Linked DNA regions of Homo sapiens. The protein of the gene in region 1 interacts with the protein of each later gene in a pairwise test. Each region holds a gene or a part of one and is shown in the gene's direction. Other genes may lie near its edges.

Region 1 (7,071 bases):
GGCCCGAAGGCTGAGGGCTGAGTCACAGGAGGAGGAGATACTGCAGTCACGGGAGACACAGAGCCCAAGACAAAGATCGGATGACCCAATCCCGCCTCCCCCACCCCAAAATCAGATCGGCGGTGTAAGGCTGGTGGCGGTGGGGTAGCAAAGGCTCTCTCTCCTCCGTGATGGGCGTGTCTCGTCTCTTTGGCCTTGCTTTGGGAGGGGCCGCCTCACACCCCCACAGACCACGGGGCTGCATGTGACCAGGACTCTGGCACGGCCGCTGTGCCCCCGCCCAACCCCGACGACATAGCCCCTCAAGCTCCCTCGGGGAAAGGGGGCACTAACCGTCACTCATAGTCACAGACCACAATTACCCAGAGAGTGTTTGGTGGGTAGGGGTACAGGTGTGGTTTTAATGGGGGGGGGGGGGGGGGGTGGGGACGGTAGTGTGGTTGTGCGCATGCGCATGGGCACCTTATTGTTTTCCCCCCCACCAGCACAGCTTCTGGGCGGCGGCCACAACTAAAAATGGTTGGGGAAGGGGCGATAATTTCGTCTCCCCTCCCCACATAAATGCCGCTCTCCAGGAGCCCCCAAACACAAGTTCCTTGGCTACGCTTTCCACGCTCGTGCACCCAGGTCCGCGCCAGTTTCTCCCGCCCTGCCACACCCCCGGCGCTCGCCCACTCGTGCCCCACTGCCCAGTGGCCTGCGCAGCCCTGCCCTGCCCTACGCAACCCGCTCACCTTGCGGTCGCTGACTCCCTCGCCCACTGCGATCACAACACCCGCGCCCTCCATGCCCGGAGTGACAGGCAGAGGCGGGAGACGGTCGTACAGCCCCTGCCTAGCCATGAGGTCTGCGAAGTTGAGCCCGCAGGCCCGCAGACGCAGCGTCAGCTGGCCGGGCCCAGGGGCCGGGGGCGCTGCCGGCCGGCTCTGCAGCTTCACCTTGTCGTAGCCTCCAAAGCCGGTGAGCACTAGGCAGCGCAGCAGTGGCGGCGAGGCGGCGGCGGCGGCGGCCCCTTCGGAGGCCGCGGGATGCTGGGGGTCGCTCGCTGCCTCGGTTTTCGGAGGCGGCGAAGAGGCGTCTTCCCCGGTCGCTGCCTCGGCTACCTCTCTCTCGTCGGACATGGCTGGGACTCCCGACGAGAGCGCACAGCTGGATGGAGAGTGCACAGCTGGGGAAGGCGGAACGCGTCGGGAAGAGCCGCGGCTGCGGGATCCAGCGGGAGGGGCGGGGCGCCGGGCGAGGCGGGGCCTCGCGCTCAGCCTTAAAGGGCCAGGGCCATAGTGGCGCAAGCTGGGAGAGCACGAAAAGGGGCACCAGGAACGTCTGTGCTCTTGGGATCAAGCCGACTGTGATTTATTTATTCATAGTAAACCTTATTCAAATTAAAAACTATTTTAAGGGATAGGCCTGGCGCGGTGGCTCACGCCTGTAATCCCAGCACTTTGGGAGGCCGAGGCTGGTGGATCATTTGAGGTCAGGAGTTCAAGACCAGCCTGGCCAACATGGTGAAACCCCCGTCTTTACTAAAAATAAAAAAGTTAGCCGGGCGGTAGTGGCGCGCGCCTGTAATCTCAGCTACTTGGGAGGCTGAGGCAGAGGAATCGCTTGAGCCTGGGAGGCGGAGGTGAGCCGAGATCGCGCCACTACACTCCAGTCTGGGCAACAGAGTGAGACCCTGTTAAAAAAAAAAAAAAAAAGGGCCGGGCGGCGTGGCTCACGCCTGTAATCCCAACACTTTGGGAGGCCGAGGCGGGTGGGTGGATCACCTGAGGTCAGGAATTCGAGACCAGCCTGACCAGTATGGTGAAACCCCAGCTCTACTAAAACTACAAAAATTAGCCAGGCATGGTGGCAGGTGCCTATAGTCCCAGCTACTAGGGAGGCGGAGGCTGGAGAATTGCTTGAACCCAGGAGGCGGAGGTTGCAGTTAGCCAAGATCATGCCGCTGCACTCCAGCCTGGGCTACAGAGGGAGACTCCATCTCGAAAAAAAAAAAGGCCGGGCGCGGTGTCTCACGCCTGTAATCCCAGCACTTTGGGAGGCCGAGGCGGGCAGATTACGAGGTCAGGAGATTCACCTGGCTAACACGGTGAAACCCCGTCTCTACTAAAAAATACAAAAAATTAGCCAGGCGTGGTGGCAGGCGCCTGTAGTCCCAGCTACCTGGGAGGCTGAGGCAGGAGAATGGCATGAACCCAGGAGGCAGAGCTTGCAGTGAGTCGAGATCGCGCCACTGCACTCCAGCCTGGGCTACAGAGCGAGACTCCGTCTCAAAAAAAAAAAAAAAAAGTTAAGGAACAGTCCCAAAACTTGAACTTACATCAGATTTGGAGTTAACTCATATCAGATTTGGAGTCAGCCACCTGTGGACTGGAGTCCAACTACATTGTGTCTCAGGCTCTGACATCTAACCCAGGCAGGGATGAGACTTAATTCACTGTGGTCTTGCAGTGGCAAAGTAGAAGCATGGAGACCAAGCCTTTAAAACTTTCTGACTTTGGTGTTAACGTTCTGTTCCTCATTTTCCCTTCTGTAACATAGTGATGATGCTGCGTGCTCTAGTTATATTTATATTTTTATTTTTTTGATACAGGGTCTCACTCTGTCACCCAGGCTGAGCGAGGTGGGGCGATCACAGCTCCCTACAGCCTCAAACTCCCGGCTTCAAGCAATCCTCCCACCTCAGCCTCCTGAATAGCTGGGACCACAGGCATGTGTCACCACGCCCGGCTAACTTTATGTTTTACTGCTCTTTGCAGAGCAGGGCTACCCCATAGGCAGCGTGCCTAGAGTGGCCAAACCTAGCTAAGTTTTGATTTTTTTTTCTAGAGAGAGGGTCTCGCTAATGTTGCCCAGGATGGCCTCAAACTCCTGCACGCAAGCAAGCCTTGGCCTCCCAAAGTGCTGAGTTTACAGGCGTGAGCCACCGCGCCCAGCTTCTAGTTATCTTTACAGAATTATTTGCAGCATATATTATTGACTCGAATTGCCTCGATATAAAAAAGCACTTTTTTTTTTTCGAAACTCTATTGCACAAGCTGGAGTGCAGTGAGGCAATCTCGGCTCACTGCAAGCTCCGCCTCCCGGGTTCACGCCATTCTCCTGCCTCAGCCTCCTGAGTAGCTGGGATTACAGGCGCCCACCGTGCGGGTTTCACCGTGTTAGCCAGGATGATAGTCTCGATCTCCTGACCTCTTGATCCGCCCGCCTCGGCCTCCCAAAGTGCTGGTATTACAGGCGTGAGCCACCGCGCCCGGCCTATTGTCAGACTCTTAATCAAGCCTGACTTTTGGGTTTAGCTCTGGCTCCAGCAGAGCAACTCTGGCGGTTGGTTCTTTCTCTTCCTTATCTCCTTGTCCCCAAGCATCCACCAGAGGACGCAGCTCCCCCAAAACTTTCCACCCAGTGCTTGGCTGGAGGAACTCAGTCCACGCTTCTCTGCTAGTCTAGGCCGGCGGTTAAGTCAATGTAACCGGAGACCCGGCTGCCCGTTGCCATGGGGACGGAAAGCTATGATGTCACCACCGTCCGGGTGGGTGTGCTGGGGTTCACCCTCCCATTTCCCCAAGACCCCCTGCCAGGACATAGGCGGACGCGGGAGAGAAAACCAAAGAGGCTCCCTCCTTCCCCTTAGCATCTCTCTCCCGCCGTGTTCAGGAAGTGGATGGCTGCCCCAGCTCTTGTCCGCACTGGTACACCTGCGTGCACGCGTGGGTACACAGCAGGCCCGAGCTTCGCGCTTGTGCCGCTCATATTCTACCCCTAAGAACTTCGCTTGAACTCTGACCTGCCCTTATATCCGAGAAAGTCAAATAAGCCCAGTTCGGCCTGTCCCAAACCGGCAGGGGCCCCTCAGACCACACCGGCGGGCTGGACCCCGGCTCTGAGGCCTCTGTTCCCAGGGCTCCGCCCAGATCTTCTGGGCCCCGCCCCCCGGCTGCGGGGGTGGGAGGAGGGGCCGGGGGGGCGCGGCCGCCTGGCTGGGGGCGGGGCGGAGGGGGGGCCGCGGACCCGGGGCGGGGGCTCGGCGCGGGCCCGCGAGATGCCGGTGTTGGCGGCCCGAGCGGCTGCAGTTGCAGGGGCGGGGGAGGCGGCGGCGGGGCCCGGGAGAGGGGTGGCGTGGGGGACCGGCGCGTAGCCGGGACCATGGAGGGGCAGAGCGGCCGCTGCAAGATCGTGGTGGTGGGAGACGCAGAGTGCGGCAAGACGGCGCTGCTGCAGGTGTTCGCCAAGGACGCCTATCCCGGGGTGAGGGACCTGCGTCTTGGGAGGGGGACGCTAAGGCTGCTGGGGGGTGGGTGACAGGGGCCCTGGCGACGGATGGGAATGGGTACTCGGGTAACCAGGGACAAGAGACAGGGGGTCGGAGGACGCGGGGAGGCCTTGAGGGCTCAGGAAGGACTGCAGAGGATTGGGGTGGGAGGAATTAGGGAGCAGGGTGAGATAGATGGGGTTTGGGAGAACCAGAGCATCCGGGAGGGAGGGCGAGGGGAATGTCGGAGGTCCTGGGCAATGGAGAGGGGAAGAACTAGGGGGCTGAAGGGACCAGAAGGGAACAGGAGGAGGTCTGGGAGCTTAGCAGAGATTCTCCGGGGGGGGGGGGGGGGGGGCAGGAGCTCCCGGGATCTCCCCTTTGCCCAATCCCAGACCAACTTGTGTCCAGGGGCTGGGCTGGACGGGGTGTGGGAGTGAGGAGGGCATTTATCTGGGGTGAGGACTTGGAGAGATGATCTCATCTGGATCCATCCGTGTCTGCAGAGTTATGTCCCCACCGTGTTTGAGAACTACACTGCGAGCTTTGAGATCGACAAGCGCCGCATTGAGCTCAACATGTGGGACACTTCAGGTAGCCAAGTCCCTGGGGGTCACCCTGACTTCCAAGGCGGCCCACTCTGTCCCCTCCCTTGGTTAGACCCTTAGGTTCCAGGTAAGCCCAGCCCATCCATCCAATTCCAACAGGAAGGGAAAAATCAATATTCTGCTAAAATCCAGGGAAACTGAGGTAGAACTTGCAGAGCCTGACAGAAACCATGTCCTGAAGGAGAAAGCCTAGGATCTGAGCCCCTCAGCTGGGTCCTGCCTACCTGGGAAAGTTGGGAAGGAATGGCTTTTAATTTGGAACATGTTCCTTCAGAGATAAGACTGGGTTTAGAAAAGACATTTAGAGGCCAGGCACGGTGGCTCACGCCTGTAATCCTAGCACTTTGGGAGGCTGGGGTGGGGGGATCACCTGAGGTCAGGAGTTTGAGACCAGCCTGGCCAACATGGTTGAAACTCCGTCTCTACTAAAAATACAAAAATTAATCGGGCGTGTGGCACGTGCCTGTAATCTCAGCTACCAGGAGGCTGAGGCAAGAGAATCGCTGGAACCTGGGAGGCGGAGGCTGCAGTGAGCCGAGATCATGCCGCTGCACTCCAGCCTGAGCGATAGAGCGAGACTCCATCTCAAAAAATAAAAAAGCAGAAAAGACATTTAGAATGTCTTGAGTGAGGGGTGGTCAGGAGGCTGTTTCTCTCCATTGAACTAGATAAATCTGAGGTCAAGTCCCAGGAGAATGGGAGAGTGCTCTCCCTGCCACTGCTCTTTTCCTCCTCCCAACATAAGGAGGGTTTTTATTTTTACAAGAGTTCCCTTCAGGGCTTTAGACTGCCAAAGCCCAGAAAGCACATGCAACATTTTATGAGAATGTCTATAGATTTTATGAGCTTCTCAAAGGGGTCCAAACCTCAGTCAAGAATAAAAATTATTACTTTTTAAACCACTAGGGAAGCAGAGAGCCGTTTCCCACCATGTGACCTCCCTTCTGCCCGCTCCCCCACTTGGGAAACCCAGACTCCATGATGGGTATTAATGATGGGTATTAATGGTTGCTCTTTTCCATTCTCTGCTCCCAGCATCCCTTGACCAGGATCTGTAAGGTCTCCCATTCCCTTCCAGGCCTCCCATCCACTCAGGCCCCTCATGCCCTGTCTTCCTTCAGGTTCCTCTTACTATGATAATGTCCGGCCTCTGGCCTATCCTGATTCTGATGCTGTGCTCATCTGCTTCGACATTAGCCGACCAGAAACACTGGACAGTGTTCTCAAGAAGGTGGGAGCCTGGGGAAATAGGGCAGCTAGACTGAGGGGGACCAGACCACCATGGTCCTGACATAACATGGGCCAGGAGGAGGGAGTGATGGCTGGGGTATGGCCATCAGCTGGTTAGCGAGTGAAGCTCTCATCCCTGCCACCCCTGCCTCCAGCCCCCATCCCTCCCAGCCACCCCTTTCCTGAAAGTCCTCAGAGCTGGATACAGCAGCTAGGGGAGGTGGGGGAGTGAAGGGAGAAGCACTCACAGGATTCCTTCTCTGCTCTTCCAACTCCTTGGCAGTGGGAGTCCCAGATGGAGGGGATGGGATGGGAAGCCTGATCCTGGAGCTCAGGAAAGCCCTGTGGCCTCCTCTCCAGGCCCCAGTTTCCATGACAAAAGCCAGGGGTGAATGGACAGAAGTCAGCTAGGGCAGCCCCAGTTCCCAGGTGGGGGAGGGGAGGGTGGGATAAATTTGTTCCCAGGAGAGAGTATGGGAAAGGCGAGTGGGAATGGGAAGTTTCCAGGCTGGCAGACCCTTCATAGCCACTGAGGGAGAAGAGTCCACAGGCCCACGCCAGCCCTCTCCTCCCCGCTGCTTCTCTCTCACCCCATCCTGCTCTCAAACCAAGCCTAGCATTCTCACCTCCTTCCTCATGTGGGAGAGTCCTGAGGGATACATGGTTTCTGCGTGCTTGAGGAAGAGAGGGCACACTGCTGGCATGGCACAAAGGCTCACGCTGTGCCTCCCTCCACCCCTCCACAATTCTCTTTTCTTCTCCTACATAGTGGCAAGGAGAGACTCAAGAGTTCTGCCCCAATGCCAAGGTTGTGCTGGTTGGCTGTAAACTGGACATGCGGACTGACCTGGCCACACTGAGGGAGCTGTCCAAGCAGAGGCTTATCCCTGTTACACATGAGCAGGTGGGACCCTTGACGTCTGACCTCATCCCAGCCTAGACCTGTCACCTCTGCCCCTTCAGTCTCTGATTTGAAAACAC
Region 2 (5,458 bases), on another chromosome or scaffold:
ATTCTTTTCACGTATCATTCATTCTGTACATTTGTGTACATTGAGAAGTATAGCAATCTATGTAAATGTAATCCTCAGTGAGGTTCCTCAGTGCTAGGTCCCATAGGATTGTCGTTGCCCTTGTTAATGAGGTTTCTCTGTTCAGCGGCTTCAATTTTTTTCTCTTTGTACATCTAGTTTTGAAGATTTACTTCAAGTTTGAATCTTCTAGAATGCTTGTAAGTCCAGTTTTAATTTTTAGAGTCAATTTGTAGTTACATGTAGTTTAACTTTTGGGAAACGTCTTAACATTGTTCTGAATAAACTTGCTAATGAGGTCAGGTCATGGTACAGACTGATGCAGTCAACATGATTTCATTGCAGAGTTTATTAGTATCAGCAAGTTTTTGCTTTGCTAAATAAAAGTACTCAATGAACACAATTCTACATAAATTTTGACATACCATCTAATTTATAAAAATCAATAAAAAAGGTTTTGGTAAAACTTTTTCATGCCAGATGCTGTTTACAACAATGAACATGCCAATAAAACATTTGTTCATTCTGTTGTGTTATTTTAGTCATTAAACTTCTGTGGATGAAGAATCTGGGTTAAGAATAGATTTGTCATCTTTAAATATGACATTTTGTAATGTGTATTGGATATCTCATTTCTATGATAAAGGTATATTTACAGTAAAGTTCTCATAAGAGAAATGAAAAGCTGTGTTAATATCTAACTTTGGGGAACCCTGTCAGTATTTCAGATCCGATTTTTACCCTTTTTTTCTTATAAGAAAGATAAAATTAGAAAATACTGTTAGCAAATGTGGCTCTGCCATTTGAATATAATCACCGAGAATTCCATGTCTTAAAAGTCTCCTGGAATCCACAATGAAAAAAAAAATCTTTTCTAAGGTATTTTTCTGGCTAATTTTTATTTGAAGAAAGCTATAGCATTTAGCGAAATTTGACTGAAGTAATGTTCTGAGTTTGCATTAGTGGGATTGGTGATGTTCTCAGAAGAAAATTGGAAACACTTGTGATGAATTGTCTTTCAGATCACTTAGATTTTCTGATGTAAGAGGACAGCTGTTTGGTTCTGATACAGGCCTGCTTACTTGGGATGTAGGGTTAGTAAATGGGGTTTCTGCTTTAAAGGACTGACTTGCTATCACACAAAAGAGGCAGACTTGTAAACACAATGGGCTTTGGAGTTTGGTCTGATTGGGTTTGGTTTAGTATTCCTATGAGCGTAAATGGTAAAATTCTTCTGATACCCACTCTTTAGACTGTGCCTTCTGCTCTGTTCTTTGTTTTATGTTTAACTGCTGTTTCTAATTGCAGGTGTATTACAGATACAAATAAGAGTAAAGAAAATATATTTCATTATAGAAAAGAAAAAATTAAAAGCTTCTTGCTTTTCAGTGCCTGATAGAGTGAAAACACAAAGTTGCACTTTAATAATTTCAATAAAAGCTAATCTGTGTCAGCCTCCCTCTGCTTCAGAGAGTCAGGTGAGCATCCATAACCTAACAGGCAGAGCCCTAGCGATGTGGATCAAGTTTCCTGAGCCCGGGGGCGGTGGAGCCTCATGATCTCTTATCTTTTGAGGCTGAGGCAGGTCACATGCAACAAATTGTGACCCTGCTCCCCACAAGTCATGCAAAGGTTTTGAAGAGCTTTTACCGTGGGGCAGATGAACTTGTGTCAACCATGCACACCCTGTGAGAACCAAGTACCTGTGTTTCTAAGGCGGGCACTCAAGGTGAGGGGTGCATTCTGGCCAAAGAAACAAAAGCTGTGGTTTCAGGACCATGCCGTGTGTAGCTGATCTGTACGGGACGTGTATGTAAGGAAGAGCAATCATGATAGATAAGAACAGTGTGTGAAGCAGCCTTCACACTAGAGTGTTTGGTCATCTCTTATAATGTAAGGGAAGGTACTTTAAAATTCTGGGAAGATGCGATGAACTCATGTCCCAGTCAGAAAATAATCCAATGAAATAAGCATTGGTTGCCAGGCCACAGTTAGGAATTGTATTGTGATACATCTAGAGGCCAAGAGAGCAGGAGAGAGCTACCAACTTACACTGTGGTTTAAGCTAAATGACCGCACAGCATCATAGCATTGCAGTGTTGTTACTAAATCTGGAAGTGACCTGTGAATGTATGGAATACAATAAAGTCTTTTATTCTGGTTCATTTGCTAGTACTTCCTTTTTGATTGGATACTGTAGTTCTTCCTCTGGATTTTATTTTGTTCAGCGTCAAGGCCCTAATTTTGCAAATGTAGTCTAAACCACATTACGTGGACTAGAGGATACTCTGAATTAGCAAGTTTTTTGTTTGCTGAATAAAACTATTCCATCTTAACAATTCTGTGTAATTTTTGAAAAACATCAACATTTTGGTCACTAGTAGTCAAAATCTTATAAGGCCATATGTCCTGAAAGGCAAAACTCTGTGTATGTGCGATTTACCAGGGAGATAGTAGGACAGTTTTTATGAGGGTTTCAAAGGAGTTCATGGCCCAAATGAAGCTTGTGGCCACCTAGGTTTAGTGTACATGAAATTGGAAGATGCTTCTTGATTGTAGTTCCCATGGGGAAGAGGGAGGCTGTGATCATTTGGTTAGATACAGCATTAATTGTCACAACTTGACTTTCAGAAACAAGAATACTGCACAAACTCAAGCATGCATTGGAGCATGTGTTACTATTTAGAAAAGAGTGCAGCCATCAGTAGGTCAAGCTAGGAGGGCAAAAGAGAGTTGAGAGGAATGCTCTGCCCCTTCCCCATCACAGCACTGCCCCTTTCCACCTCCTCACCAGCTCACCTGTACAAGAGAATTGATCTCAACTGAGTGTCAGCTCACCAGGTCAGAAATTGTTATTGGACCCTAAAACCTTGCCTCACAGGTGGGCACCAAGCTCCCCTTCCCTCTGCTTTCCATGTTTCCCACCTGCCCTCTCCCCACCTGTTTTCAGCCTCTTTTATAATGCTTAAGTAACCTGCTTGAAGAGTATAATTTATGGAGATAAAAATACTCAATGCTTACATTTTTTTCATAACTGTGCCAATTGTTTTGTCAAATGCAGTTACCCACTGGGCAGTGGGCTTATCAAGTGCTCAGTGCAATCCTGTGACTTTTAAGTCATTTTGCATTATTAAGACAATCTTATCTTAAAGTTCAGTGGTTTCATTCAAAGCTCCCCTGAACCTCCATAGTGCCTCCAAGATGTGCTGTCCCTGCCAACTCCTGCACCAGCTTGACTGGTGGTGGAAGAGGCCAGGAAGAGCGGGGGGAAGACATGTGCTAACCACTTCTTAGCAATGAGGCTGGTAAGGTTACTGTCCCCTTGTGCCTGGTCACTAGTAACTTTTTTGTAGACATGAAGGTAGATGCCCTGCAGGTCCTATCAGCAAAGGACCCAACTCCTAACAGCATTGGTGCTCCCTCATGAAATTTGACAGTGTCTTGCCAGCCTCCTGCTGGCAGACACTTCTCTGCAGTGAATACCACTATCCCATGCTGCACTAGTCCCTACCAAGTCTTCAACCCTCAATTTGATCTTCCATGAGTGTCTCAAAAAGTTCCCCTCAGAAGTTTCAGCCAAGGGAATAAAATCTAACCTCTCCTCCCTCAACGGAGTGTCAGGGAGGGGAAGAATCTGTTTTCCAAACACCACAATCTCCCAAAAGGGGATTTCACCCTCCCTTGGTCATCTTTATACAGGGCAATTGTGCTGCTGCTGCTGAGGTGGCCACTTTCAGCAAGCCCTGTGTGCAGGGGCCTAGCTGCATTTAGAAACCAAGCATAGCTATCAAAAAGTAATCTCCAAATAGTTGAATTGCATTTCTTGAGTATCTGGAGAGGATGTGCAGACCACAGGAATACCTAATGCCTTTTTTCTCTTCCTGTCTTTGTCCCTCACACTACAGCAGGCCCCTCCCTTCCCTCTTCAACCTCATCCTCCCTCCCCACAGGCCCAGAGAACCAGTTGGGCTTTGTTCTCCTGCAGGCTATGGTTCATCATGCAAATAGCTCCTGTGTCAGAAATGCTTTTTGGCTTCAAATAACAGAAAAGCTAACACCAGCTTTATCAATAATAATATCGGTGGTTTACTTAAGGTGTCCAGAGATGGTGGAGAACAGGATTGGTTTCCTCCTCAATGTCAAGGACTCAAAGACTCTTTCTGTGGTAGGGCCACATCCTAAACCCTGTATCCTGTGATTATTTACCTGACAGGGCAAAAGAGATTTTGCAGATGCAATTAAGGTTAAGGACCTTGACGTGGGAAGATTGTGATTATTTACCTGACAGGGCAAAAGAGATTTTGCAGATGCAATTAAGGTTAAGGACCTTGACGTGGGAAGATTATTCTGGATTATCTAGGTGGGCGCAATTTGATCACATGGGTCCCCAGAAGTGGAGAACCTTTCCCACCTGTAGAAAGCCAGAGAGCTGGCACCTGAGAAGGACAGAACTGTCATTGCAGGATTTGAAGATGAAGGGGCCCATGAGCCAAGGAATGCCAGTGACCTATAGAGGCTAAAAAACAGCAAGGAAATGGACTCTCCCCAGAGCCTCCAGAGGAATGCAGCCCTGTTGATCACATGATCACCAGATGGCTGCCCCAGAGCCAAATGTCGCTTCCTGAGCACCATACTCAAAGGCAGGGGAAGTGGATGGAGGGCAGGAGCTCCATTCTTGTTTGCCACTCTCCTTTTGTCAATTGGGAAAAAATTCCAGAAACTCTGGGAGCCCTCCCCTTACATTTCCTGGGTCATGGGGCCAGCCCTAGCTGCTGGAGGGACTGAGAACAGCTGTTGAGCAGTTTACCTGACGGCATCTGCCATGGCTTGGCAGGAACTCTGGCTTTGGGAGAGAGCAGCAGCAAGGTATTCAAGCACCACCTCCACCCAGCCCCTCCCACATTTCACTCAGGACTGAGTAAAGGAGACACTCAGATGCTACTCAGATGCTGGCTTCAGCTAAGTATTTTGCAAAGCCTCTCGTGTTCTTACAAGTTTGTGGCTATCATGACAAAATGGAGCAGCCTACTATATCTACATATACAACTATGGGGGACCTAGTTTTATCTCATTTACCACAATGTTTTCAATCATTTTTTGGATGACATAATTTTTAGCCTCTTCTCTAAATGCTTCCTCAAGCTTTCCTTGCCTTCCAGCCACTGCAAATGACTTGCAGTTTCCCCTACATGGCACCTGACCCTTGTGCCTCCCTCCCTCTGCCCATGGCCCAGAAAGCCCTTTCCTGTGCCCTCTGGCTTCCTGATAAACTCCTATCATCTTCAAGAGCCAGTTCCCATGCCAGCTCTCCCCAAGTGCTCCACTGAGGCTTCCGTAACACCTCTGTTCCCACATCGGGTTGACTGTCTTTGTTTTGTCATTGCTTGCTCTGGCTGTGTCTCCCTCATTAGACTGGGATGCCTTCAAGGTAGGGACCCTA

What was found.
Region 2: the proteins of RND2 (region 1) and USP47 interact in binary tests that used the Homo sapiens proteins (3 or more experiments, as listed by UniProt).

Annotation. Positions count from the first base shown.
Region 1 is NC_000017.11:43,021,202-43,028,272, forward strand, and holds the start of RND2 (rho-related GTP-binding protein RhoN), read left to right. Parts: upstream 1-4,029; 5' UTR 4,030-4,146; coding exon 4,147-4,248; intron 4,249-4,300; exon of another isoform or gene 4,301-4,320; coding exon of another isoform or gene 4,321-4,338; intron 4,339-4,758; coding exon 4,759-4,846; intron 4,847-5,981; coding exon 5,982-6,091; intron 6,092-6,859; coding exon 6,860-6,994; intron 6,995-7,071. Other genes in the region: VAT1 (synaptic vesicle membrane protein VAT-1 homolog), read right to left, coding at 735-1,121.
Region 2 is NC_000011.10:11,956,972-11,962,429, forward strand, and holds the end of USP47 (ubiquitin carboxyl-terminal hydrolase 47), read left to right. Parts: 3' UTR 1-4,916; downstream 4,917-5,458. UniProt on the Homo sapiens protein: Ubiquitin-specific protease that specifically deubiquitinates monoubiquitinated DNA polymerase beta (POLB), stabilizing POLB thereby playing a role in base-excision repair (BER). Acts as a regulator of cell growth and genome integrity.